Linked DNA regions of Homo sapiens. The protein of the gene in region 4 interacts with the protein of the main gene of each other region in a pairwise test. Each region holds a gene or a part of one and is shown on either strand. Other genes may lie near its edges. The genes, in order: CYTIP, ITSN1, cystathionine beta-synthase and CYTH1.

What was found.
Region 1: the proteins of CYTH1 (region 4) and CYTIP interact in binary tests that used the Homo sapiens proteins (3 or more experiments, as listed by UniProt).
Region 2: the proteins of CYTH1 (region 4) and ITSN1 interact in a two-hybrid assay, tested with the Homo sapiens proteins (2 studies listed by BioGRID and IntAct).
Region 3: the proteins of CYTH1 (region 4) and cystathionine beta-synthase interact in binary tests that used the Homo sapiens proteins (3 or more experiments, as listed by UniProt).

Annotation. Positions count from the first base shown.
Region 1 is NC_000002.12:157,441,076-157,448,684, forward strand, and holds the start of CYTIP (cytohesin-interacting protein), read right to left. Parts: upstream 3,015-7,609; 5' UTR 2,946-3,014; coding exon 2,772-2,945; intron 17-2,771; exon of another isoform or gene 1-16. UniProt on the Homo sapiens protein: By its binding to cytohesin-1 (CYTH1), it modifies activation of ARFs by CYTH1 and its precise function may be to sequester CYTH1 in the cytoplasm.
Region 2 is NC_000021.9:33,771,492-33,778,513, reverse strand, and holds part of ITSN1 (intersectin-1), read right to left. Parts: intron 6,454-7,022; coding exon 6,191-6,453; intron 3,786-6,190; coding exon 3,636-3,785; intron 3,547-3,635; coding exon 3,406-3,546; intron 1-3,405. UniProt on the Homo sapiens protein: Adapter protein that provides a link between the endocytic membrane traffic and the actin assembly machinery. Acts as a guanine nucleotide exchange factor (GEF) for CDC42, and thereby stimulates actin nucleation mediated by WASL and the ARP2/3 complex.
Region 3 is NC_000021.9:6,457,505-6,464,526, forward strand, and holds part of cystathionine beta-synthase, read right to left. Parts: intron 6,376-7,022; 5' UTR 6,368-6,375; coding exon 6,159-6,367; intron 2,790-6,158; coding exon 2,683-2,789; intron 2,529-2,682; exon of another isoform or gene 2,231-2,528; coding exon of another isoform or gene 1,952-2,230; intron 787-1,951; coding exon of another isoform or gene 699-786; intron 552-698; coding exon 417-551; intron 1-416. UniProt on the Homo sapiens protein: Hydro-lyase catalyzing the first step of the transsulfuration pathway, where the hydroxyl group of L-serine is displaced by L-homocysteine in a beta-replacement reaction to form L-cystathionine, the precursor of L-cysteine.
Region 4 is NC_000017.11:78,779,253-78,786,847, forward strand, and holds the start of CYTH1 (cytohesin-1), read right to left. Parts: upstream 3,022-7,595; 5' UTR 2,972-3,021; coding exon 2,950-2,971; exon of another isoform or gene 2,804-2,949; intron 1-2,803. UniProt on the Homo sapiens protein: Promotes guanine-nucleotide exchange on ARF1, ARF5 and ARF6. Promotes the activation of ARF factors through replacement of GDP with GTP.

The DNA.
Region 1 (7,609 bases), on a different chromosome or scaffold from region 4:
ATTGATTCTGAAGACTAATAATTTGAAACTACAAGCTAACCAGATATAGCTTTGCAGAAACCAAAGCCAACAACAACAAGAAGTATGAGCTGTTGACGTCAGCCCTGAAAGTGTTGAAAATAACAGTAGGCAGAGAAACACCTGCTCATGTGATTGCCTCACAAGGATCTTGTTGCCTGCAATTTAGTCAGTGCCAAATGGGTGATTATTCTCTAAAAACCAGTTAAAGGAAATGAACATCCATTTGGAAGATTGTGAAATGTTGGGATAAACTTGCATCAAGTCTCATTGATGATAATTGTACGGAATCAGAACTATCATGTACAAGAAGTTTTGTTTTGCTATTTTTTAAAGCAATTCTCACAACAGTAAGAAAAAGCTGTTTGAATATGGAAAGTCTACCACATGAAAGAATTTGAGAGAAGGGGAATGAGAAGACCTAGAAAAGATGAGAACATCTGCATAAATTAATTAGTATGGGGATGTGTGTGTGCCTGTGTGCATATGTGTACATGTATATATGCACATACACACACACACACACACACACACACACACACACACGTGTATTTCATATGCCAAAATCCCTCTCTTTATCCTCCTCTGATAATCAGCCTCTCCTACTGATTGCCTTCTTTCAGTTCACGCTATCTTCACTCTGGCTTAAAACCAGATGTGACTCCTCCGTCTTCAGTCCCTTTCATATTAAAGCCTTTCAGTCTCCTTTCTGTTCCCCCATTTCCTCTTTCTCCAACTACTGCAAAAGTTCCTCCCTCACCACTAGTCTCTACTCACTAATCCACTACATTTCTACAATAAGGTTCCTGAAATCCTCTACTTCTCAAACACGTTCAGTGGCCCTCGTGCCGGCTTTTTCAGGGGAAGTTGTCCAAGTGTTCTGTAAAGCAGCCCAGCGCTGAGATCTCCTCTCACCTCCTACACACTAACCAGGTTCTCCTGACACACTTAATATTGTGTTGTTACACAAAAAAGTCCTCCAGGCACCAGGATCTATGCCTCAGCTTCAATTTCTCCCTTGCTCTGGAATACCCTTCAATATCTGGAATACCCTTCAATATCTCGAATATCTATTTCCAAGGCTATATTTACAGATGTTTCACTTCGATGAGAGTATTCATGTTGTTTTACTTTGCAGAAAACCCATTCTTTCTGCTTACTGAATTGTAAACAGTATATGGGTAGGAAACATTCCCTTCTCGTCTTTTTACCTCCTACACTTAGCATGATGTCTGTCTCCTTGTAGGTGCTCAGAAACCATCTGTTGCATTGAATTGCATGGGCTAGAGAGTAGATCAAATGAGTAAGGTTGCAGGTATGGAGGACATAGAGGGTGGAAAGTTCCCACCCTGATTGAAAAAGTACCCACAGTCTCCAGCAAAAAAAAAAAAAAAAATCATAGCCTAATCAAGTGAACCATAGTTGGTGTGATAGTGTCATGGCAAATATAAAGAAAATCTGACTGCTTTATATCTGAAAACTGAAAAAAGATGTCAGCATTTCTCATGTTGCTTTATCTTCAGACAGGTTGTAGATTGATAAAATGTTCATCATTACATTAAACTTTGTATCATAAAAGCACTTTAGATTGAGAACAATCAATAATCCAAATCATGGAAAATTGTGCCCTTATCTTCACTCCGAAAAATACCAAGGAATCAGCTATTATACATCACTGAAAAAAGATCATGTCTCTCCCACTATGCCATACCTCTCTAATCCTGAATTTAGAAGGCTTACGAGAAGCACATGATTGTACATGCAAGACTTAAGCGCAAAAATTCTTGCTCTAGGGCAATTCTAAATATTTTCTGTAGAAATGCTACATCGAAATTCAAATATGTACCTGGGGATTTAGAGCAAGTTGTTTAAAAAAAATCCTGAAGAGGTATTATGGTTAAAAAAAAATTTTTACATGTTAGAAATTGAAGAACGAAAAAATCAAAATAAATTCAGTTAGACATAGATTTTTCCAAATGAGTTTTCATCCCTAGAGACAAACTTTGCAATAAAAATATTAAAATGGCATAATCTAGCATTTAATAAACACACACTGAATGCCAGTCACTGTGTTAGGCACTGCACAGTTCCTTATTTAACCAACATAAGAACCCAATAAGGGTGGTTCTATTATTAACTCCATTTTAGAAAAAACAAAACTGAAGCTTAGAGAGGCAAGTGGCTTGCTCAAGATCCCACAGACACTAAGTGGTGAGCTGATATTCAATCTGGCACTCATCTATCCAAAAAAAAAAAATCTTACTTTCCAATAGCCTGAGGTATGTGCCAGCAACCCAGAGCTGAAGATAATTAGTCAACAAAATTTGTCCTCAGAAAAAGTATTTCTTATTTGATTATGAACTGAAATGACCATCAAGGACTGCAAGTAAGGATGGAAGGGAAAGAATCAGTGGAGACACAATGGGGAAAAGAGAATTAATTCTCATACTGGTTGTATCTATATAAACCATCTTCAAGTTTTTTATGCTTAATGATGTTTATTTTACCTGAGCACTTCTTCAAATAAGAAAAACAATCTTAATTTTTGCCTTGAAAAAAAAGTTTGATTGTGGTCTCAAATCTTTGGACTGGTTCACCTAGCTCCCTGAGCATCTCACCTCCTTCACCCATAATAATCAGCCAGTAATTCCAAAGCCTCTAAAATATCACCATTAGTATGAAGTCAGACAAACATATCACTCTGCCCTCAAGAGAATGTGAACACTCTAAAGGGTACAAAATAGCAATCATACCTGCTTTCGTCCCCGAGGCAGAGTAGCCACCGTGTCTGCTAGCATTTGAATCCTTCTATTATCGTCCATCGTAAGGCTGCCGGTGAGTGTGGAGTAAGAGCTATACGCTGGCCCAGCGCAGAAGTCCGCCAAATTGCCATTGCTGCTGTGTTGCAGGAGCCTTTGTAAAGACATTGTGAATAAAGATCACTCCAGCTAGCACATGGTTGAGTGGCCTTGCAGGATGGGGGAAGCTAAAAGTACAACTGTGACAAGTAATCAAAAGTAGCAAAGCAGAAAGAGCCCATGTGACCTCTGTGGTTTGAGGAACTTGTTACACAAACCCTATCTTGCTATTCACTCCCATTTCTCAAAGCTTTTTTTCTTTAAGCTCCTGAGAGAACCTGGAGCTAATTTTTACAATTTAAAGAAAAATCAACTTATTTTTTCACCTCAAACAGCCAGAATTCTTACGCTTTTATGTTCTGTGGCAAGTTGCATTCACACCACCATTTGCCATTTTTTTCTTTAGAGAAGAAAGAAAAATGTCCCCAAGTGCTACCATTTGTTTCCCATCCATTCTCTTACTTAACATTAGCAATGCAATGCAGAAGTCAGCACACGAGGACATTCAGTTCTTGTGAATATGGGCAAGAATTACAGGTGCCGGTCATAATGTTCTCTCTCGAAGTCCTTGTAATACTGTACTTTCCCTGAAGTATACCCTAGATCATTAATGTTCATCAAAAAGACATTATATCTGCCACTGAGGTTGTAACCATTCAGCATTCTTCTGGTTGTCCTTTTACTACTTTGTCCTTACAAAAATTACCCATGATCTTTACAAAGTACAATGGGAAGGGAAAGCCAGCACATTTAGGGCACAATGTTGCCATTTCTTAGACGAGACTTTGCGGCAGCATCAGCAAGTGGTCCCAGGGGAGGAAAGGAGTGGGCAGGAAGGTAACAGGCAAACCAAGGTGGCACCAAGAACATTGCCTGTTGGTCCCTGCATGTGCATATGGGTCAAGGGCACCATCACCAAGTACTCAAGATCACAGATGCTTTTTTTTTTTTTCCTTTGGCTGAGGTTGGGGGCAGGTAGTTTTGAGAGAACTGGTTTCAGTGGAGGAGTAGGGGAGGCAAGTAAAAGGAAGAATCGAAACAAAAGTCAAAAAGAGAAGTTTTATATGGCACAAAAAGTCAAATGTGCTTTTTAAAATCTCTGAAGATCAATACTAGCATTTGAAAGAGTTAGCAAATCTTTGAACTAAAATGAAATGTGTGTGTACTGGAAGTGAAGATGAATTCAACTCAAGTAGAAATTGCCAAATATAAATAGTAAAATCTGAATTAATAGTGCTTCAAAAGTTGAAGCCAATTATAGATTTTAAAAACTCTATCACAGCATGACTCATTATACTGGAATTGAATTTTGACATGGACAAAGTGATATCACCACAAACATATAACGGTCTAAATCAGGAATTAAAAACACATACGTTTTCAGAAGCCAGGTAAGTAACATAAATGTGTAAGGCAAAAGGGAGTGGTAAATACCTTGGCAACTAAAGAATACATCAATTATAAAGATATTCACGTAAAATCTATATTTATAGATATGTACAGATATGTATACAGGTATATGTGGGGTGTGTGTGTGTGTGTGTGTGTGTGTGTGTGTGTATTAGGAAGACAGAGAGAGAGATTGATTTTAAAAACATTTTCAGGCTAAGAGGCACATAAATTAAATCATCACTATTAATGGATGACAGCAGTCCACTGTACCCTAGGAATCTGATAAAGTTAGGTAAATATTTTTAATTTTTATTCTTAATATTTTAAAATGCCAAATGGAAATTATACATTTGCTTAATATAAGGCCACCCACTCAGGCCAACTGACTCACCCATTTTTATAAATGACTACTAAAATTGTACCAATTCATTGTAATACTGACCTTAAGCTGATGTAAATCATAGATCATCATTCAATTAAGAAACTGGAAAATACTTATTACTTAACTCATGAAATGTGTTAAGTAAAATTTTTCAAATAATGGGATACCTGGATACAAAACAAGGGTCAAAAGTACCTCTGACATCCAGCCAGCCCATATCAATGTGGTCACACCTGTTAATTACAAATTTTTGACCTAGTCTATTTTTATTGGTCATTTCCCTGTTCTGTCAGTGCCTGTGTCATGCCAGTCACTAATATCATGATCAAAAGTGTCCCTTGTGATAAAGGGTGGAGAAACAGTAATCTTTTAAGGGGAATGTGACTTCCAAACAACAAATCCTTGACTTACAAAGGTGTTCTACTGTTTAGAACATCTCTTTTCTTTTAGGATTTACCTTAGGAAAATTATAATAGACCAGACTCTCTTCCCCTTCAGCCTCCCATTTATTTTAGAGAGGTGATTCTGGAAATGAATTGGATCAAGCTACCTAGGTACTCAAAAGATTTCAGGAGTATCTCACTGTTCACAAAAAAATAAAATAAAATAAAAATTATTTTATATTATCTGATTTCATTCTCTGAAATGTCATATCATTTTTTTAGATTCTTCTTTTGAGACTTAATATATTCTAGTTAGGGCAATAGTTAATTGTATACAAATCTGTTTCTCTGCTAATGTCCAATTTCCTTGAAAGCAAGGAACATCTTTTATCTTTAAATGTATACTTTATGTCCTACATACAAAAATTGTTCAATAAATGTTAATAAAAAGAGAAAGGTAGATATTAAACAAAATGATTAAACAATAGTGTTCTGTGGTATTAATAAGGAAAAAAATTAATTTGGTAGGAAATGTATGTACTACAAGCCCATATTCCAAAGTGCTACAATTTTCACTAAGGGGTGATCTGAGAGATGAGGACAGAGTCTCTTAAAAATACGTCTCATCTGCCTTTATGCTCTAAAAGCTAATATTTGTTATGTGGGGCAAAGCTCTTATTTGGAACATTTTGTTCATAAATATGCAAATACCCTTGGAAGGAATTAATCTTTAGTACAAATGAGATGAACACTGAGGGCCTACAACATGGAGATTTGGTAGAGTCAGGTGAGAGGAATATACCTAAAGCACGGAACAGAGAAAGAAAGGTGGAAAGGTTTGCAAGACAAACTGAGCCAACCTTACAATCATCCATGAAAATCTTAGGCAGCTGTAAGAGGGTTGACAACAGGGTTCCAGTGTCACACTACTTAGATTCAAGTCCTAGCTCTGCTGCTTTAAAGACTATGGACTGAGTTGTATCCCCCCAAAATTCATACATTAAAGCCCTGAGCTTCAATGTGTCTGTATTTAGAGATAGGGCCTATAAGGAGGTTAATGAATCATTTAAGGTTAAACGAAGTCATAAGGGTAAGGCTCAGATCTGATAAGATTAGTGCCCTCATAGGAAGAGGTGGCAGAGGACTCTCTCTCCACCATATGAGGACACAGCAAGAAGGCAGCCTCCTGCAAGCCAGGAAGAGATCCCTCACCAGGAACTGAATCTGCCAGCACCTCAATCTTGGACTTCCCAGCATCTAAAACTGTGAGAAAATAAATTTCTATTGTTTAAAGCCACCCAGTCTATGGTATTTGTTATGCTATGGTATTGGTTATGGTGGCTTGAACTGACTAATACACTCTCTAAACTTTAGTGTTCACATATCTAAAACAAAAATTTGCAGGAAAAAATAGACAGAATAGCCCATGAATAGCACATGGTATAAAGTAAGCTATATCTACTGAATTTTGCTTTAAGTAACAAGCCTTCAAAAGGAAAAGCTAAAAAAGGATATAACATGAATTCTATATGAATAGCCCTATTCATTACTAAGTGCCTCTATGTGCAGCAAGGATGCCCTTGTCACCCTGAAGAAGTCTAAAGGCTACACAATACATGTGAATTCCTTACCATCGAATATCAAGATGTGTTTGAAAACCATCATCAGAGCCAATGTGTGAAATTTCTGGATTATTGTAAGACACAGAAGAAGAGTAACTGGTTGCTTAAAAAATGAGACTTCCTCTATGCCTTTCTGATCTTAAGATAGCTGTTGAGTTTTTTGTTTGTTTTATTTTTGCTATTTGCCTTTATTTGCACAAGAAGATTTTATCTGGCTTCCTGGAACATCACAGGATTTTGTTTTGTTGTGGTTTGGTTTGCTAATTTGTTTTATTTTGGCCTTTTGCCTTCATTTGGAAGGGAAGTTTTTATTTGGGTCTCTGGAATGATGTAGGAGATGTGTTAAAGTCATATAGACAATATTTGAATATTGTGCCTTTGAATTTATATAAGGTAAATTTGATTTAGTAAAGTTACTCTCATATATGAGGATCCACTAACTGTGAAAACTGCTCTGTCCTATGTATCACCTTATTTGAGTGATGGAGCTGGGTAGACAGATGTCCTCATCCAACTCAGTGTGGATCACTGGAATTATGAACACTACTCCCCAGAGAGTAATAGCCTTCTTCAGAAAAGGATAAACTAAAAATTTGTAACTAGGACAAGCCCTGAAAAATAGGCAGCTCAGGAAAGGAAAATAACAGAAACAAAGGTCATAAAGACCCTATATTAGAAATCCTAGTGTGATATAAGCCAAATATTGGCTTAGAGTTGTGACATGCATATTTAAAACAACACAAAGAAAAACTTTAAACCTAATATAAATAATAGCTAGCAATACATCAAATCTACTATGTTTTTAATACAAGTGCAAGGAAACAATTTTCTGATTTATTCAAGTTTAATTCAATCAAATCATGAAGCTATGGGTAGATTGCAATATCATTCAAGGGATTAAGCCACTAAATTCAATTGGGGCTTTAAATAGATTATCTAGATCAGTGTTTCATG
Region 2 (7,022 bases), on a different chromosome or scaffold from region 4:
GTTCATTGACAGATAATCAAAACAGATTCAAGGAGAAGAAGAAAATCAGAATAGCCCTATATCTGCATAATGAATTTTATAATTAAGTCTTCAAGAAAGCTCCAGGCCCAGAGGCCTTCACTGGTGAATGCCACCAAAATTTAAAGAAGAAATGCTATTTCAACACAAACACTTTTAGAAAATAGAGGAGGAAGGAATATTTTCCAACTCATTTTCTGAGGCCAGCATTACCCTGATATCAAAACTAGACAAGAATATTAGAAGAACACTAAAAACCAATATCTCTGTTGAATTGAATTCAACAGATTTAAAAAGATCCTTAATAAAATAATGGGAAATGGAATGTAGTGAAATATTTTAATAAAGGGTAATATACCATGACCAAGAGTGGTTTATCCCAAGAATGGAAGGCTGATTTAACATTCAAATGGCAACCATGTACTTCATCATATTAACAAAATAAGAAAGAAAAAACACATACTTATCTCAATAGATGCGGGGAAAAAACATATGATCTATTTCAACACCCATTCATCATAAAAACCCTCAGCAAAAGGAGAAGTCCATCAACCTGATAAAAGGTGTTTACAAGAACCCTGGTTAACACTATACTCTATGGTGAGAGAGCTTTCCTTCATCGAGAGGGAACAAGGCTCTTCCCACTTCTATCCAATATAGTATGGGAGGTTCTGGTCAACAAAGTAAGACACACAAAGGAAGTTAGTTAAGCAATCACAGATATAAGGTCAATATACAAAAATAAATTCTATTTCCATATACTGGCACCAAACAACTGGAAACTAAAATAAAAATATGCAATATACAATAGCATCAAAAGCCACAAAATACTTAGGGATAAACTTTACAAAGTATCTACAAGACTTGGACACTGCAAACTACAAAACATTGCTGAGAGAAATTTATAACTACCAAAATAGAGATTTATGCCATAGATTTACTATTGCTGAGATGTCAAATCTTCCCAAATTGATTTATAAATTCAATGGAATTCCAACAAAATTCCAAGCATTTTTGTAAAAACTGATAAGCTGATTCTAAAATGTACATGGAAATGTTAAGGACCTGGAATAACCAAAAACAATTCTAAAAAGAACAATAACAGAGAATTCGTATCACTTGACTTCAAAAATTAGGTATCAACAGGGTGAGGTACTGGTAAAGGACAGACAGATCAAAAGAACAGAATAGAGTCCAGAATAGACCATTACAAATATGTTCAACTGATTTTCAACAAGCTACCAAGGTAACTCAATGGGAAAAAAGCCAGTGTTTTTAATAAATGGTGCTATAACAACTGTGTATCAGTATGTAAAAATATAAACCTCAACCTTTACCTTATACTATCTGCAAAAATCAACTTGAAATAGCTCATAGACCTAAACATATAAGATACAACTATGAAACTTAAAATTTTAAGTTTTTTTCAATTTATAAAAACTTGTAAAAATTATTTTTTTAAGCCCCAAAAACTTCTAGAAGAAAATAAAATATTTGCAGTCATGGGGTAGTCAAAGATTTCTCAGATAGAACATAAAAAGCATGAACACCAAAAGAAAAAAAACGGTAAACTGAACTTCATCAAAATTTAAAACTTCTGCCCTTTAAAAAATACCACTAACAAAAATTAAACCCAAGCCAGATTGGGAGAAAATATTTGCAAAACACGTATCTGACAAAGGACTTGTTAAGAATATAAAAAGAACTTTTACAAGTAAATAGTAAGACAAACAGCCCAATAAAAAATGGGCAAAAGATTTGTTCAGACACTTCAACGAAGATGCACAGTAAAAAATACTCGCCAATAAACATGTAAGATGATTCCCAACATCATTAGCCTTCAGGGAAATACAAATTAAATGATCAGAATGTAAAATGGTACAAACTCTTTGCAGTTTGTCAGTTCTCTTTCTTTCCTTTCTCTTTTCTCTCTCTTTTTTTTTTTTTTTTTGAACAGGGTCTCATTCTGTGGCCCAGGCAGTCAGTGGCTCAATCATAGCTCACTGCAGCCTCGATATCGTGGGCTCAAGTGGTCTTCCTGCCTCAGGCAGGTACTACAGGTGAACGCCCCCATGCCAGCTAATTTTTAAGTTTTTTTTTTTTTTTTTTAGAGATGGGGTCTTGCTATGTTTCCCAGGCTGGTCTCAAACTCCTGAGCTCAAGCAATCCTCTTACCTTGCCCTCTCAAAGTATTGGGTTTACAGGTGTGACCCACTGTGCCCAGCCTGACAGTTTCTTATGGGGTTAAATATACACTTACATGACACAGTAGTTCCATTCCTAAAAGTTTACCCAAGAGAAATAAACCATTTCCACATAAAGACTTGTACATAAATGCTCACTGCAGTTTTATTCATAAAAGTTCCACACTGGAAAGAACCTGAATATCAACCAGTAGGTGAATGGACACATAAGGAAACACTACTCAGTGATGAAAAGAAACAAAAGAGTCATTCACTCAGTAACATGGACACATCTCAAAAACATCATGCTGAGAAAAAGCCTAACATAAAGGAATCACAGGCAAATATGATCATCCACAGGCAATATTTACATGAATTTGATGCCCCTGTAGTTCAGCACTTGATACCAAACCAGGTGATATTATAACAACTTTGGATAGGCTTTAAAATGAAGACAGAACTACTAAAAGTGCTCTGTATGTCTCCAACTATTTAGTATACATATAGCTCTCATATGACCCCCTAAAATACTTAAGTGTACTTATTTATTGTAATTACCACAGTAAAGCCAAAGTCCTGTTGGTGGACTACAGGTTCTGTGTGATCCAGCTCCCACCTGCTCTACCCAGTAGTCTCCTTGCTGTAACTGGCATCTCAGAGTCCTGCTACGACCTCAGGACTTTGGCACTATTTCCCTGCCTAGATCTTGCTCTGCCAGATACCCACATGGCTTAGCCTGTCATTAATTTCAAGTCTCTGCTCAAATGTCACCATCCAGAAAGACCTGTCTTGGCTACCTTAGTTAAAATCACAACATTTCCTATCCCTAGGACTCTCTATTCCCTTCCCTACTCACTCTCCATAGCACTTTTCATCTTCTAATACAGTACACACTTTATTTTGTTAGTCTCTGTTCCTCCTGCAAACAGAGGGTAAGCTCCCAGAAGACAGAGTGTCTGTCCCTGCTGTAGCCTCAGAAACTGCAAAAGCACCTGGCCCGAAGCAGTGCTCAGTAAATATTTGCTGAGTTTGTCTCCTTGACAGGCTACTTTTCACACAAGGACCCTGTCTACTTCATTTTTGCTTCCCAGTGCCTAGTACAAGACAGTTGCTTAATGTTTACTGAATAAGTAAGTAAATGAAATGAATTAGAGAAAAGGATGCCAGTTTAATATAATAGCTTTTAAGAGGCATATTTCCTCACCTGTAATTGTTGCTGTAGATGGGTGATTTCGGCAATTCTCAACTCTCTAGATTTGTTTGTGCTCTCAATTTCTTGCCTTTGGGTGGTCAATCGACATCTGATATCTTGAAGTTTCCCTTCTAGTTGATGCTTTTTATCATTCTTGAACAAATGAAAGATAATAAAAATTATTACTGTTTTTAATGGTTCCATCTTAGTATATTTTCAAAGTATAACCAAACTTCACTCACTAGAGCTTCTAATTCAAATTCCAAAGTCTTTTTCTTTGCTTTCAGTACAACTATGTCCTCTTGTTCTTTGTTTCTTTGATTTAGTAGTTCTTGCCTTCGATTCCGTTCCCACTCAAGTTGTCGTTGCCTTTCAAGTTCCCGTTTTGCAGCCTGTGACATTTACAGAGACAAATTACTAATTTTTCAGTTCTTACACTACACAATGTCTTTTCACAAAAATGGCATCTAGGAAGTCTTTCCTTTTAGGGATGAAATATTAAACATTACAAGAAATCACATTAGAAAACAAAAAATTACATAAAAATACAGTATTCCTTCTATGGGAATAAAGGGAATACACAGAACTGGGTATTATATTTACATAATACTATATTTACGTAAGATGACAGGATTATTTCCCCATTAGAATTCCATTCTTTATGCCTTCAAGAATGCTTGATGTGCTAACTAAAAATGCTCCTTCTTATTTACTGACACGCCAAGAAGGAAAATTTATGTAGTAAAATCAAACTAAAACACCCCTGAACAAAAACAAACAAGAGTTGATTTTACTCCACCAAAAGAGAAATTATTACTTAACTCGTTTTAAAAGTCTGCGACTCCCCACTTCCTAATCATTCATTTCCTTTTTACCACAAAAGCTTTTGCTCCCTCCAACGACTGGCTCTGACGACTGCTAGATAGAGTACATATCAGAGCATCTGACAGTCTATGGGAATTGCCTCTGACTCATGGGTCATCCAACTACACCTGATACATGGTAAATGTCTATTAAATAATTCTGAATAAATACTCTAGAATATCATTTTTTTGGTACGTTGAAGAAAAGTTTGCCTATCTTTGTTCATTCTGAAAATTAAAATTTTGTTAGTGTCTGTCTGAACAAAAAGGAGTTACGGGGCCGGGCGCAGTGGCTCACGCTTGTAATCCTAGCACTTTGGTAGGCCGAGGCAGGCGGATCACCTGAGGTCAGGAGTTCGAGACCAGCCTGGGCAACATGGCGAAACCCTGTCTCTACTAAAAATACAAAAATCAGCCAGGCATGGTGGCTCACGCCTGTAATCCCAGCTACTCCGGAGGCTGAGGCAGGTGAATCACTTGAACCCAGGAGGTGAAGGCTGCAGTGAACTGAGATCGTGCCACTGCACTCCAGCCTGGGCAACAGAGCGAGAGTCTGTCTCAAAAAAAAAAAAAGGAGTTATGGCTATAAGTTTTGTTTCTTTCTTTTTTTGAGACAGGTTCTTGCTCTGTCACCTAGGCTGGAATGCAGTGGCCTCCAACTACTGGCCTCAAGTGATCATCCCTCCTTAGCCTCCCAAAGTGCTGGGATTACAGGCTTGAGGCACAGCACTCAGGCTATTTTTTTACATCGAAAAATTCCTCATTTTTATCTTTCATTCACATGAAAGAACCATGTGTTGCTTCTGCAGTAATGTACTAAAATTGGAAAGAGAGACAAGATTTGCTTAGCCCCTTTCCAGGTATGGCGCTAAATTTACGAAGCCTTCCATAGAATATAGGGAGGATGTCCCAGACATATTTTTAAAAGAGTTTAAAAAGAAGGTTGCATGGGCCAGGCGCGGTGGCTCATGCCTGTAATCCCAGCACTTTGGGAGGCTGAGGCGGGTGGATCACCCGAGGTCAGGAGCTCGAGATCAGCCTGACCAACATGGTGAAACCTCATCTCTACTAAAAATACAAAATATTAGCTGGGCGTGGTGGCGGGCACCTGTAATCCCAGCTACTCAGGAGACTGAGGCAGGAGAATCGCTTGAACCCAGGAGGCAGAGGTTGCAGTGAGCTGAGATCATGCCACTGCATTCCAGCCTGGAAGTGACAGAGCGAGACTCTGTCTCAAACAAAAAAAAAAAAAAAAAAGAAGATTGCAGAACAATGTAATTGGTATGATACTATTACAGTGGTTTTTAAAAAATTATACAGCCCTTACACTCTCCGCCATATAAACCTTTATATTTTTATATAGGTGTATACAGAGAAAACAGTCTGGAAAAACACTTTACTGGTATCAGTGGTTTGTTACAAAATTGTATCATCAAAAACTTGTACATTAATGTTCATAACATCATTGTTTATAATAGCCACAATGACCATCAACTGCTGAATGAATTAAAAAATGTGGTATACCCATATAACGAAATATTACTCAGCCATAAACAGGAATAAAGGACTGATTCATTTTACAATGTGGATGAACCTTGAAAACATTATGCTAAATGAAAGCCAGAAACAAAAGTCCATATATTGATGATTCCATTTATAAAAAATGTCCTGAATAAGTAAATCTAGAAAGATAGAAAGTAAAATTAATGATAGGAGCTGGAGGGAGAAAGAAATGGGGAGTAGCTGCTTAATGGGTAAAGAGCTGGAGTGATGAAAATGTTCTGGAATTAGGGACGATGGTTGCACAACTTTGGGAATATACTAAAACTACTGAATTGTAAAAAGACAAAGATGGCGTGAATAGATCACTTGGATAATTCTGAAAAGGGGTGATCGCACACTAACTCCGGGTGGCTCCACTCTCGCCTGCTTACCTCTCGCCTCTCAATTTCTTTCCTCCTCTCCTCCTCTCTCTGCCGTTCTAGCTCCCGCTGCTTTTCCAGTTGCTTCTCCAGTTCCAGTTGTCTTTTGCGCTCTTGCTCCTGGCGCTCACGCTCCTTCCTCTCCTGCTCCGCCCGCTCCAGCTGGGCCAGGCGCTCCTGCTCCTTGCGCTGCTGTTCCAGGAGAGCTTGCCTTCGTTTCTCCAGTTCCAGGTTGCCACGTTCAAAGTTCTCCCGCTTCTTATCTTCAAACGTTACTTCAGACAAGGAACACAGCAACTATGAAAACTCAAGATTTTCAACGGACTCTTTTCAAAGGAAAACTCACCAATGTATTTGAAATTTGTAGTACAAACCCAAACCCAGAACTCCCTAAGCTTCTGTGTCCTTGTTAATGAGCACAACGAAAACCCCCTTTGCCTAACCTCTCTGTTTATATCTTCTCCTCCACGCCAAACACTGTTTCTAAAAGATCCTTATCTAGCAGTTCTACATCACCATCCAGACTCCTTTCCTTCCCTGTTACTCCATCCTTTCCCTTCTTCCCATGAGCTTGCCCTAGGAATTAACCCCCTCTCTTCTGGACCATGAGTCTCTGTCTCTCTCCCTCCTTCCCTTTGCCTTGTAACCGTGCTGATGAGTCCTCTATTCTAACAAGATTTCTCAAAGCAGAGTGAAAGGTGAGCATTCGGCTTTTCACACTGAAGAACAAGCTGTGCCCTGATCCCTATGGAGATCACAGTCAGTCAACAATTTTTTCTAACCCATTATTCAGTTTCCTTCTTTAACACATCAATTATAAATTTAGAATGATTACTCAGTTCTA
Region 3 (7,022 bases), on a different chromosome or scaffold from region 4:
AAATTGCCCAACATGGCTGCTTCTGCCTTCAAGTGCAGGGGGAGAGAGGCTGCCAGAGGCAGAAATAAAAGGTACACGTCAAGGAGGAGGAGGCAGCGGCGCAGGACAGGAGATCTGGTTCCTCCAGGCCCAGCCGGGTACACAGGCACAGGAAGAGCAGACTCCGGGTGCTCGTCTTGTGTGCCAGGCACTGCCAGGTGCCATCGCCCCGAGAGCATCGGCACTGGCCCCGAATGCTGGTCAAAGGAAGCTAGGTTGGGACACAGGCCGGCAGCGGGTGCAAGATGCCAGGGAGCAGGCGGCCAGGCGGGCCAGCACATGCGGCTGCAGCTCATCCATCCCCCCCGGGTCCCGGCAGGCTCGGCATGGGTAGGGGACAGCCAGCCCCGGCCACCCCCTCTGGGCCTGGCACCCACCGGTGTTCCCGGATGTCGGCTCGATAATCGTGTCCCCGGGCTTCAGCGTCCCGTCGCGCTCAGCATCCTCAATCATCCGCAGGCTGATGCGGTCCTTCACGCTCCCGCCCGCGTTGAAGAACTCACACTTGGCCACTGGGAGGCAGAGATGAATCACAGAGGGGACCCCCTGACCACCCCCCCATTGATTCCTGCTCACCCCCCCATTACCTGATACACCCCAGGGTGGGGGACGGGCTTGGGGGTCTGTGGGTTCTGAAAAATTGCCACCTCTCCACTCACCTCCCCTACACCTGCACCTGGGCACTAGCCTATCAGAGCTTCTCCCCCTGCAGCCCATCCTACCGGTCCTGCAGGGCGCTGAGCAACTCTGTGGGAACCAGAGAGGCATAAGCAGCCCTCACTGGGGGGCGCCGCAGAAAACCCCGTCCCCCCACCCACGAGCTGGGCTTGTGGCGGGCAGGCGCCTGGATTTGGGTCCCCTACGCCCCTATGCCCAGCCATACCCAGCGGCCCCTGCCAAAGCAGCTTGATGTCCTGAAGCCACAGCACTGGCTTCCCCATCGGATGGGGACTCGCATACTCTCCCTACAGCCTCCCATTGTCCTCCTTCCCCTGTGGGGCGTCACCTGCCCGGGGAAGGGCTCCCTGCGCAGTTCCCGCACAAGGCCAAGGCCTTCACTTGCACTTCCTTCCTTACTGCAAGTCCTCTCTCCCTCTCCAGCTCTTAAAAATATTTAGTTTTTAAGAGCGAGAGAATGGGCTGCATGAAATGTGATTTGAGGGACCTGGGACCAGCCTGCAGCACCTCAAAATTTCTGAAAGCAACCACCAGACAGGTGTTGCCCCTAGAACCAGGACGAGGCGCTGTGTGTGGTGGGGAGGACTCTCGGGGTCTGGCCCTCTACAGGCCTGCATTCTCGGACCCCTCTGGGTCCCATACTGTGAAACCCTCAGTTAGATCATTCTCACTAGCGCCTGGGGGCCAGCTCCGAAGCAGAAATCAGAGCTGGTGGCCTCCGGCAAGCCACGTGACCAACCTGACCCTCGGTGTGTCTGTCTGTAAAACGGGCATTCCAAAACCTACTTCAAGGGCAACCGCCAAGTTTAGACGTCATCCTGTACGGAGCACAGTGAGCCAGCCACGCGTGCTGCGTACGAGTTAAGGGTCCCTATTGTCTGACAAATGAGCACAGAGCCGGCCCTGCTGCCTTGGGGGTCTCTGTGAAGGGGGCTGCTCTGCTGCAGCTCCGAGATCTCCTTCCCTAGAGGGGGGCAGAGGAGGGCCAGGCTCCCACGAGGCCCCTCCTGTGAATCGGCGATCGGTTCCCAACGCACCGACCCCTGACTTCCTTCCCCCAGCGCCTGCCCCAGCTCTCACAGGTCCCCCGGCTGGGACATTAGAGCATCTCAGGATGAAAAAGTCCCAAGCCATGTTACTGGTTCCCTCTCCTTCCCACTCGAACTCCACCCCCTCCATCTGGCCCTGTCGCGGGGTTCTCCGCGGCACCCTTCCTGCCTCCCTCCGAACTCACTTGACCTTGGTCATCTGAAATACGAAATTCCGTCCCCGCCTTGTCCCCAAGGCCTCTGCACCCACAGCTTTCTCTGTGACGATGCTGAGGTCTACCAGGGCTCTGCGCTCTTGGTGAAGAGCGACCCTTAGGAATTCCCTCCACGCTCTTGAGCCTGGAAACTGCGTCCTGCAAAGAAATGCCCTTCCCCGGAGGCCTCAGACCACACCTCAGGTGACCCCCTGCGCACCCAGGACGAGGCCAGCCACAGACCCTCCAAATTCCCATTCTCTGTCTCATAAATGATGAGCTGAACTATCTGTCCCCACGAAGCTGGCAAGACAGAGGTAACCGCTCCCTGGACAGCGGGTGGCTCACAGCACGTGCTAGGACCCGTCCACTGCTCCTTAGCAGGCATGACGCTAACCCTCCCCACCTGCTTGCTTCTGCCTTTGACCCTCACCCGGCCCTTCACACCCTCGCTGCTTCCACTCCGGCCTCAGTTCAAAGGTCACCTGTTCGTTCCCTTGTCCATCTGCTGGGGAGTCACTTTGGTCACCCTCTGACACAATGCCCTGTTGTGTGTTTTTCCCAAACTTAAGCTGATATGTTCTTGGCCACTCATTAACCAGCGAGTTTTCTGATCCCAGGGCCTTGCCTAAGGGATCCATCCCAGGACCCCCCAGGACCCCCCAGGCCCACGGAGCCCAGTGTAGATGGAGGAAGCCCCTCTCCAAAGCCAGGGCACTCACAGAGCTCACACTTCAGGCCGAACTTCTTCCCAATCTTGTTGATTCTGACCATAGGGGTGTCCCCGATTTTCTTCAGAATATCTGGCAAGATTTTTGGAGATTTTGCCCTGAAACAGAGGAGTCCACAATTATTCAGGAAAAAAAAAAAAAAATAGTACCAGCCCTGGCAGACATTGTCTTACACAAATCAACACTCGAAGAACTGGAAAAAAAAAAAAAAAAAAAAAAAGAACTGGCTTTATCTGGGTGGTGGTTACACAAATCTGTACACAGATACACCTAACACACATCCCACACACACGCCTGAAACACACATACACACACATGCTTAGACATACAAATCTATAAAAAGCAAATCATGCCTGTGGTTTATTTGCACCAATGCCAGCTTCCCAGGTTTGAAAATGAACCTACAGTCGTGGCAGATGTTGTTAGTGGGAAGCTGGGAGAAGGGTACAAAGGATCTATTATTTTTGCCACTTATTGTGAGTAGTAAATTATTTCCAAATAAAAAAGTTAAAATAAGCAAATACTGACTCCAAAACAAAGGTTTAGGTCCACCTTTTCAGAAAGGCTTTACTGGAGATGACATTTCCTTTCATCTCTCAGCATGTGACCATAGGAAGCAAAAAAGTGTCAGGGCAGAGACTCCTTAGACCAGGGACAATGGCTGCAAAGCGCAGGCGGGATGTCTAGCCCTGCACAGAAAATGTCAGGCACGTGGCAGACTCAGAGCCCCGGCAGAGGCGCTGTCGGCCAGGCTCGTGATGCCCTGCCCTGCAGCATCTGGCTGTGTAAACCCTCAAACCCTGGTCCAGGTGGTTTCCTAAATGGCCCTCATGCCCCTGCCATCCTCCCCCAGGGAGATGCTGATGACACCCCCTATCTATCTGCACCAAGCTCACCACATACTCATCTGGGAACACGCATGGCTTACAGCGGTCTCCAGACCCGCAACCCCTCCCTGGGCCTTGCAGCTCCGATGACACCCCGTGGCTAACCCTGGGCCCCCTCTTCAGCACAGTCACCTGCTGAACAGCCAGGGTCCTTGGGTCCTGCCCCCCAGGAGGCGACCCTTAGACCTGGGGTGAACCCAGCTCCCAGAGGTCCTGTGCCATGGAGGGAGTGCCACATTTGCAGGGAGAGCTACCCTGAAGGCCAAAACAGGCGCCAACAAGAGCAGCTGGAATCCAATCGCACCCTTCCCGGGGAGCAGAAGGCAGTCCTGCCAGGTCCCCAAACTGTACAGGGGCCAGGGAGGTTCCCTCAGAAGCAGTTCTCGGCAGAAGGGAACCAGGCTTGGCAGGTGTAGAGAGCCAGGGCCAGGTGGAAAGCCAAGCCCCAGGGTGACAGCGCCGGGGATTAGTTCATTAATTCAGTTCGGGCATCTGGCCAGCCAGGCGGGAAGAGTCCCGCCTCCCTGCAGCAGGTGTGCTGACTCAGCACTGGGCCTCGGTGGCTGTGAAGTTACCTGAGAAGTTTGCAGAGGTGATCAGGGCCAGGCCCAGAGCGCTTAGCAAGAAAAAGGATGTGACTTGCAGGGATAGCCCTGGAGCCCCTTATCTCAAGGACTCCCACTTCCACAGCCCAAGAGTCTCCTGGGAGGACACGCCACTGTCCTAGAATGAACCTCCAACTCCTGACCCACCTCTGCAGCACCTCCCCGCAACGCCACTATTCTCAGGGGCCCTCCGACTGGAGACAAGCGGCGTCGGCTCTGCGTCTCAGGATGGGGGTGTCTTCGGAGGATGAATGAGGCCAGTATGTGAGGTGCAGGTGCAACGCCATTTACAACCTGGAGGGCATCGTCTCCTTCTCATGCCCTAGAGTTAGGAGCTCACGGAGCCCTCAGGAATCGGGCCTGTCTTCCCTGCCCACTCCACCCTCCAGCAGCCACTCCCGACCTCACCGGGCCTCTCACCCACTGCTCTCTTGGGTTTGTCTTGGCAGCAAGAGCCCATCCTCCTGGCTGCCCACACATCTGCTTGGCCTCCTGAGCTCCCAGCACTGAGTATGTTTGACACTCAGACCTTCTGGGTTTGTCCACTGTCACTTCTTTCTTTCTATTGCTGCACTGAGAGTACACCCAGCCACCCCCACCCATTCTGAACTGTAAATCAACAACCATAAACGCTGGTAGTGGTGGACACAAAATAGGAATCATAATCCCAGCACTTTGGGAGGCCGAGGCGAGTGGATCAACTGAGGTCAGGAGTTCAAGACCAGCCTGGACAACATGGTGAAACCCCATCTCTATTAAAAGCATAAAAATCCACCGGGCGTGCTGGCACATGCCTGTAATCCCAGCTACTAGGGAGGCTGAGGTAGGAGAATCGCTTCCCGGGAGGCAGAAGTTGCAGTGAGCTGAGATCGCGCCACTGCACTCCAGCCTGGGTGACAGCGAGACTCTGTCTCAAAAAAAAAAAAAAAAAAAAAAGGAATCAAACATCTAAGAAGCACATTCTTTGATCTATTTGTTCTCCTCCAAGATTACACTAAGGAAATAAAGATAATCCTAAGGCTTAGTGAGCTTGATTTCAGTTTCATGCTGGGGTAGGGATTTTTGTTGATTTGTCTTTTCCACTGATAGATCTTCTGCGCCTTGAGCAGGGCACGAAATGCACATGGCGCTGAGGAAAGACTTGTTGGCTAAATGAATGTGTCGTATCTTCTATTGCAGTTATGTAAAATGAGGTAACTGCAAACATCTATCTACCCCGTAGAGGGCTTACAAAATGATGGCTTCTTCACCGAACAGTCTGTGCCACCAGAAAAACAGCCCTTATGGAAAAATATGTAATGCCTACGGGAAGTCTTCATGACCTAGAGTTAACGGAAAAGTGCAGGCTGGGCCGGGCGCGGTGGCTCACACCTGTAATCCCAACACTTGTGGGAGGCCAAGGCAGGCGGATCACTTGAACCTAGGCATTCAAGACCAGCCTGGGTGAAACCCCATCTCCTAAAAATACAAAAATCAGCTGGGTGTGATGGTGGGCACCCATAGTCCCAGCTACTTGGGAGGCTGAGGTGGGAGGATCCCTTAACTGGGGGAGATTGAGGCTGCAGTAAGCCATGATTGCACCACTGCACTCCAGCTCGTGTCTCAAAAAAATAAAAAATAAATAAATAAGAGAGCGCAGGCAGGATCCTGGTCCCTCACCTCCAGTGAATGTGCACACGCAGCCACAGACCGGGCAAAGCATGTGACCTGGGCACATTTATTTATTTATTCTGGAACTACTTGCTGAGCATCCACTGTCTTGCCAGGCACTGGCCTAGGCGCTGGGCTGCAGCGTAAGGAGGCCTTGGCCTCTCAGAGCCTCATCTACACGGCATGGCCCCACCCCCAGCTCCTCAATCCAGAGTGACTACAGGGGGTTACACCTCATGTCCTCCTGGCTGTGTGGTGTCCAGGTAACAAACTCCTGCCCTCCAGGTTATGGATCAGCCCTCTTGTGATCAAAAGCAGGACTTACGGGGCAGTGTGGTGATGTGGGGACTCGGAGGCAGGCCGGCCCAGCTGCCAGGTGCACCTGCTCGGAGCATCGGGCCGGATCCACAGGGGCTCCTTGGCTTCCTTATCCTCTGGGGACCCCTTCTCCAGGCTCCCCTTCGCCGAGTGTGGCCCTGAGCGGTGGGGGCAGCCTGTGGGCCCCACTTCTGCCTGGGGGGTCTCAGAAGGCATGCTGGGACCTGGCAAAGCAAGGAGAGAGGCGTCGGTTCAGGCTCGGATGCTGTGGGGTTCCAGCGAACCCTGCTGACCCGGCCCCCTCTGGGAGGCGTGCTCTGCTCCCTCAGAGAAGCCCAGGAAGAACTGCACAAAAACACAGGCACCAGCCCTGTGGGCAGCCGCTTGGCCATTTCTCTCCTATAGGCATATACCAAAAAAAATGGAAGCAGACAGTTGCTTGGGCCGGGTGCGGTGGCTCACGCCTCTCATCCCAGCACTTCGGGAGGCTGAGGCAGGAGGACCACTTGAGTCCACGAGGTCAAGACCAGCCTGGGCTCCAGCCCCATCTCTATTTAAAAAATAAAACAACAACAACAAAACAGATGCTTGCACACCCATGCTCACTGCTGCACTATTCACAAGTCAAAACGTGGAGGCAGCCCACGTATCCGCAGACGGATGAACACACACAGTAGGCTCATACACACACTAGAATATTACTCAGCCCTAAGAGAAATGAATTCTGGCACACGCTACAACACGGACGAACCTTCAGGACATTATGCCAAGCGAAATGAGCCAGACACAAAAGGACAAATACTGTGTGATTCCACTTCCACGATGAGGCACCTGGGACTCTCGAACGCCCCTCTATGTCTGGCAAATTCAT
Region 4 (7,595 bases):
AGCCAGGCGTGGTGGCGCATGCCTGTAATCCCAGCTACTCAGGAGGCTGAGGCAGGAGAATCGCTTGAAGCTGGGAGGCAGAGGTTGCAGTGAGCCGAGATTGCGCCATTGCACTCCAGCCTGGGCAACAAGAGTGAAACTCCATCTCAAAAAAAAAAAAAAAAAAAAAAAGAAAGGGGAAGAATAAACTTACAAACTTTCTCATCTTCGTGTGTGGCAGACAGAATAACAGCCCCTAAAGAAGTCCGGGTACTAATCCCCAGAACTTGTGAATAGGTTACCTTACATGGCAGAAGGGGAATTAAGGTAACAGATGGAATTAAGGTTGCTAATCCTTAGCCTTGATTATCCAGGTGGGTCCCACTATAATCACAAGGATCTTAATAAGAGGGAGGTAGGAGGTCGAGAGAAATGAGAAGATGCTACCTGCTGGCTTTGAAGATGGAAAGGGGACTATGAACCATGGAACACAGGTGGCCTCTAGAAGCTGGAAAAGGTAAGGAAATGGGTTCTCCCCTGAGCCTCCAGAAAGAACCAGCCTGTCCGACACCTTGGCTTTAGCCCAGTGAGACCTATTTTGGACTTCTGACAGCAGAACCCTAAAACAAATGTTATGTTGTTTTGAGCCACCAGGCTTGTGGTAATATAACAGGTATAGGAAACTAACACGCCCTGCTTCCACTTACCTCTTTCAAGTACAAGTTCATGTCATGCCTGGTGGCAAAGCAGTCACTGTATTAAAAGCAACCAGACCAATAGCTTCCTGCCCACGGCAGCAGGCAAGAACACAAGAGAGGCCACAAAAGCCTGGTAGGCAGGACACTGGGATCTGAGGGAAATTAAATGGCAAGAGGAGGCAGAGAAAAGAGCAGCAGGCAAAACTGCTGTCGGCTTCTCAGCAGTGGGCAGGAGTGAAATCTGGAGGGGCTGAACAATCTTTTGGGGCCAGCCAGTGGGTGATTTTTCTTTTAATCACAAAAGGAGGCTGGGAGCAGTGGCTCATGCCTGTAATCCCAACACTTTGGGAGGCCAAGATAGGAACTGGAGTTCACACCAGCCTAGGCAACATAGGGAGACCTCCCTCTCTACAAAAAGAAATAAAAATAATTAGCAGGGCGTGGTAGCCCAGGCCTGTAGTCCAGGTTACAGGAGGGGCTGAGAAGAGAGGTGAGAGGATTGCTTGAGCCAAGGAAGCAGAGCGTGCAGTGAGCTATGAGAGCGCCCCTGCACTCCAGCCTGCGCAAGAGAGCTAGACCCTGTCTCAAAAACACAACAAAACAAACAACAAAAAAATGCACAAGCTGCTTTTACTTGTTTACTTATAAGGTAACAAGTGGGCTGGGTGTGGTGGCTCAGGCCTGTAATCCCAACACTGTGCGAGGCAGAGGTGGGAGGACTGCTTGGGTCTAGGAGTTCAAGACCAGCCTGGGTAACATGGCAAGACCCCATCTTTTAAAAAAGTAAAAAATTAGGGCTGGGCGCGGTGGCTCATGCCTGTAATCCCAGCACTTTGGGAGGCCGAGGCGGGTGGATCACCTGAGGTCAGAAGTTCAAGACCAGCCTGGCCAACATGGCAAAACCCTGTCTCTACTAAAAATACAACAATTAGACAGGCGTGGTGGCACGCGCCTGTAGTCCCAGCTACTCAGGAGCCTGAGGCAGGAGAATCGCTCAGCTCACCCAGGAGGCCGAGGTTGCAGTGAGCCGAGATGGCGCCACTGCACTACAGCCTGGGCGACAGAGTGAGACTCCGTTTCAAAAATAAAATAAAATAAAATAAAATAATAAAATAAAATAAAATAAAAAATTAGCCGGGCATGGTGGCGTGCGTATGGTTCCAGCCACTCAAGAGGCTGACGTGAGCTACGATCACGCCACTGTGCTCCAGCCTGGGTGACAGAGCGAGATCTCGTCTCTTAAAAAAAAAAAAAAAAGAAAAATGTCCCATTAGTTATTAAACTAGAATTGGGTTCCATTTGGCCACAGAGTTCTGCTTTATTTGTACTTTGCTACCAAACCACAAAAGTTCACCACTTGTTCTATTTGCCATTCTTCCTTTTAATTCCTCATGAACAAACTTAATAAATTAACTACAGCATGTCAAACAACCTTTTGCAACCCTTGCAATTTCAAACTCTTGGAGGGAGGCACCCCTGGCCTGGGCCAGCAGCCTCAACGCGCGGGAGCGAAGGGAGCGGGACAGCGGCTCCGCTTGCCAAGTCCCCAGTCAGGGGAGGAGCGGCGTCCCCACCGCGGTGCCCCTCGGGCTCCACACCCGCGTCTCGGCAGGCGGCGACGCACCGGACCGGCGGCTACCGGGCCCAGACTCCCGCGGGCAGGGCCGTCCCGGAGCCCGCGCCTCGCCGGCGGCGCCGCTCCCCGTTCTCATTTCTGAACAAAGACGTGGACCGGGCACAACTCGCTGACGCCGAGAGCGGCCGGAAACTGCGGGGAACGCGGGCCCGGCCATCCGCGCGTCCGCCCCGAGCCCCGCAGAGGGGCGGCAGGGCCAGCGACCTCCACCCCTCGGCCCCCCGGGACCCGGACTGCGACCCCTGCCCCGGGGACCCCAGCGACCCCAACGACTCTCATCCCTCAGAGCCCCTGAGATCCTGCCCCGCGACCCCAACGACCCTCATTCCTCAGAGCTCGCGGCGACCCCTGGCCCCGCGAGACCGCGAGCCCGGCCTGTGACCCCCGCCCCAGCCACCCACATCCCTCAGCGCCGCCAGCGACCCCGGCCCCGGCGACCCTCATCCCTCAAAACCCCCTGCGACCCCCGCCCCGCGAGGGCCCCGCGCACCGCTCGCCCGCCGGTCGCCCCGGGCTCCGCGTCCCGCACCAGTGTCCCCGGGAAACGCCAGCCGCCGCAAGCGCTGCCGGACGGCCGGGCCCGGAGGGGACTGGGGGACAGCGAGGGGGAAGCGTCCGCCGCCGGGGCGCACTGACCGTAGCTGTCGTCCTCCTCCATGGTGCGGGAGCCGGGCTCCGCGCTCCGGCTCGCCGCTCGCGTCCCGCCGCGCCACCCGCGCCCCCGCTCGCCTCAGCCCGGCTCGGAGCCCCGCCCCCGGCGCCCCGCGCCCCGCGCCCCGCCCGCCCGCGCCTGCGCCTGCGCCCGCCCCCTGCCCCCGGCCCGAGGCCCCGCCCCTCGCCCGAGGCCCCGCCTTCCTCCCGCGCGCGCCGCACCCCGGGTACCCGGCCTCCTCCCGAGGCTCCGGCCTGCGCACGCGCGTCCACCCGAGGCTCCTCCCCTGCCCCCGCCTCTAGACCACGCCCCCGTCCCGAGACACACACACCCCCCCCCCTTCTCCCGGTCCGCCTCCTGGGGCCGAGCAGGTTTCGGTTTCTGAAGGGCGGTGCAAGTCCCCGGGGTGGCGGACTCGACCTGGCCTGCAGCCAGGCTACTGCACGAAAGCCCAAGGTCGTGTCCGGCCACTGAAGGGCAGGGTGGTCCTTGCTGACGCCAACCTGGAAGGTCAGACCCGGCCCCAGCTTGCCAGGGAGGGCCCGGTCCTTGGCGAAAGGCCACAAAAGCTATTTGAAGTCATTTACTCCTGCGTTCAGAACCTTTACATGCTGTATGTCCTAAGTTTACTGCTTCTACTTCTTTTTATTTGTCCTGAGTTTTACCTGGGTCAAGATTGAAAGGAGGGCACTTCAAGTCCCAGCGTTTTGGATTTTATTTATTTATTGGAGACGAGTTTCGCTCTTGTTGCCCAGGCTGGAGTGCAGTGGCCCGATCTCGGCTCACTGAAACCTCCGCCTCCCGGGTTCAAGCGATTGTCCTGCCTCAGCCTCCTGAGTAGCTGTGATTACAGGCATGTGCCACCAGGCCCGACTAATTGTATTTTTAGTAGAGACGGGGTTTCGCCATGTTGGCCAGGCTGGTCTCGAACTCCTGACCTCAAATAATCCGCCTGCCTCGGCCTCCCAAAGTGCTGGGATTACAGGTATGAGCCACCGCGCTCGGCCTTCTCTTTCTTTATGACAGAGGACAATCCCACTGCTGCAGAATGCCAGCACCAGAACCCCCCTTTCCCCCTGCAGTCACTTGTGGCTCCTGCACCCTACACAGAACACTCACTGAGAACTCCACAGAGATCCCTGGACTGCTGGGAATTTTTTGGACCAACCAAAAAACGGGAGTAAAAGCCACAGAACTCTTTCCTTGTGGGCCCACCTGTCCTGAGTTTTACTATTTTTCTTTTTCTTTTATTTATTTATTCATTTTGAGACAGAGTCTCACTCGCTGTGTTGCTCAGGCTAGAGTACGGTGGCACCATCATGACTCCCTGCAACCTCTGCTTCCCAGGCTCAAGCAGTTCTCCCACCTCAGCCTCCTGAGTAGCTGAGACTGCAGGCACCGGCCACCATACCTGGTTAATTTTTGTATTTTTTGTAGAGACGGAGGTTGCTAGGTTGCCCAGGCTGGTCTCGAACTCCTAGGCTCAAGTGATCCTTTCTCTTTGGTCTCCTTCCTTGGCCTCCCAAAGTACTGGAATTACAGGCGTGAGCCACCACGCCTGGCTGGATTCATGATCTTAACCTTCACTGACTTTACCAGATTGTCCAGTTTTACAGGTGACCTTAGAGAGTCACATTTTGGCCCTAACGTGTCCTTGGGCTTCGGCGTGTGAGGTCAGAGACCCAGCTGCATTTTGTTCCTCTTGGCCTAGACTTAGGACACTTTTAGAATTGACCCCACATTGACCTGGCAAATCTTCTCAAACCATCTGTCACATGGGCTAATGGAGCACTGAGCCTCTCCCCCAGTATTTGCCATCCTCTGTTTCACTCCCTACTTCACTTCTAACCCCAGACTCACCAGAAGGTTCAAGGTATCTTCGAGCTGGCTTTCTTCCCTTATCAGTATGCAAGTCCCAGACCACCTCAGCTCTTGCTCAAAGACCAGAACTCCAGAAGAAAAGCGATTCAGATGGCATGTTAATTCTTACTATCAGCACTCTAGACCTCTTAGCTGAACTCACCAACTGAATAGATTTGGAGAGGGAGGGATACTGGTATTACTGCTAATCACAGATTAGCAGAGAACATGACTGTTTACAAATTCTGTTCCCTTATATTGTTCCATTAGACTGGTGTTTTTCAGCTGGGTGAAGTGGTTCATGCCTATAACCCCAGTACTTTGGGAGGCCAAGCTAGGAAAACTGCTTCAGGGCAGGAGTTCAAGACCAGCGCGAGTAACATAGAGAGACCCTGTCTCTACAAAAAATTAAAAATTGTCGAGCATAGCGGCACACGCCTGTAGTCCTAGCCACTCTGGAAGCTGAAGTGGGAGGGATCCTCTGGGCCTGGGAAGTTGAGGCTTCAGTAAGCTATGATTGCACCACTGTGCTCCAGCCTGGGGGACAGAGTGAGACCCTGTTTCCAAAAAAAAAAAAAAGAACAGTGTTTTTCAAACAGCGGGTCATGACTCTTAATGGTTATGAAACAAATACTTATTAGATGAAAAGAAAATAGAATTTTTAAAAAATTGTAGTCTATCACACATAATACAGAGACAGTGTTTGTTCTGGTTGCAAATGAATGCATGCATGTGTCCACTGGGTAGGGCTATCCCTGACCATGGATGACTGTCAAAGAAACACAGAAGCTACTCCATTAGATCACATTCATGATCAGAGATTTTTTTTTTTTTTTTTGAGATAGGGTCTTACTGTGTCATCCAGGCTGGAGTGCAGTTGCACATCTCGGCTCACTGCAGCCTCCACGTAGCTGGGATTACCACCATGTGCCACCAAGCCCAGCTAATTTTTGTGTTTTTAGTAGAGACAGGGTTTCGCCATGTTGGCCAGGCTGGTCTTGACATCCTGACCTCAGGTGATCCGCCCACCTCTGCCTCTCAAAGCACTGGGATTACAGGCGTGAGCCACTGCGCCCAGCCAGAGAGGTCCTTTAGCTGTTATCTTTGCATGACATTTGGAAGCCGAGGCTAATAGACATCCAAATGCAGCCTACTTGCAAGCAGGAGTTAAGTCAGTTTCACTCTCGTATCTTGTATTTGTGCCCCCAGCCCTTGGAGCGTAATGAGAAGGAGCCGGCGGCAGGGAGACAGGAACCACAGGACTCCACTCCAGCTGTGGATTCTAACCCAGACCTCTTCCCCCACATCCACTAATTCTTCACAGAACCTTTAAACTGGGTGTGGGCTCTCTGCAAGTTTCGCTGTGGTTTCTAAGTCCTTAGTGGTTGATCCACTTGACAACTAATTTTTTTAAGTTGGTAGCTCCCTGCGGTATTTGACAGTTTTTGGTTTGGTTTTGTTTTTGAGACAGGGTCTCACTCTGTTGGCCAGGCTGGAGTGCAGTGGCTCATGGCTCACTGCAGACTCCACCTCCCAGACTCCATCGATCTTCCCACTTCAGCCTCCCAAGTAGCTGGGACTACAGTTGCACGCCACCACACCCAGCTAATATTTTATTTATTTATTTATTTTAGAGACAGGGTCTTTCCATGTTGTCCAGGCTGGTTGTGAAATCCTGGGCTCAAGTGATCCACCCACCTTAGTCTCCCAAAGTGCTAGGATTACAGGCATGAGCCTGCTCCTGGCCACCCTCTGGTATTTTCCACTGTTCCTGGCACATACCTCCCTTAGCTCTTGTTACAGTCTTTTGTTATAATGTTGGTTTAGGCCTCAGGAAACAATCTCTCTGGCCTTCTCTTGTTCTTTCACCTGCCCCAAGGCAGGACTTTAATCTTGCCCACCTTTCTGATTGTGGGTCTTAAGACCCTCCCCAGAGAGGGTCCTGCCCTGTGCCCTATGGAAGGAAGCTTCCATAAAAATTTCCATTAAAAAAAAAAAAAAAAAAAGACTGGGCTAGGATAGCTGAACATGTGGAGGTTCCTGGAGGGTGATGCCTAGGGAGGGCTTGGAAGCTCTGTGCAAGGGCCCTTCCCCATCTCTTCATCTTTATCCTTTGCAATATCCTTTATAATAAACCACTAAATGGCCAGGCGTGGTGGCTCATGCCTATAATCCCAGCACTTTGGGAGGCTGTTGTATCACCTGAGGTCAGGAGTTCGAGACCAGCCTGGCCAACATAGTGAAACCCCGTCTCTACTAAAAATACCAAAATTAGCCGGGCTTGGTGGCGGGTGCCTGTAATCCCAGCTACTCGGGGGGCTGAGGCAGGAGAATCGCTTGAACCCGGGAGGTGGAGGTTGCAGTGAGCTGAGATCGCGCCATCACACTGGGGGACAAGAGCGAGACTTCGTCTCAAAAAAATTAAAAACAAACAAAATACTAAATGTAAGTGTTTCCCTAAGTTCTGTGAGTGGCTCCAACAAATTAATCAAACCCAAAGAGCGGGGGTCATAGAAATCCCAAGTTTAAGGTGGTCGCTCAGAACTTCCAGAGGCCCAGGCTTGTGACTGCTGTCACAAATGCAGTCTTGGGGACTGAGCCCTCAGCCTGTGAGATCTGACCTCACTCCAGATAAGAGTCCAAGTTGGACTGGATGAGAGGACCCCCAGGTAGTGTCTGCTGCTTGGTGTGTGGGGATAAACCCCCACGCCTCTGGGCAGAGCAGTCTTCTGTGAAGATTGTTGTGAGGTGAGAGCAGACCATAGTTTGA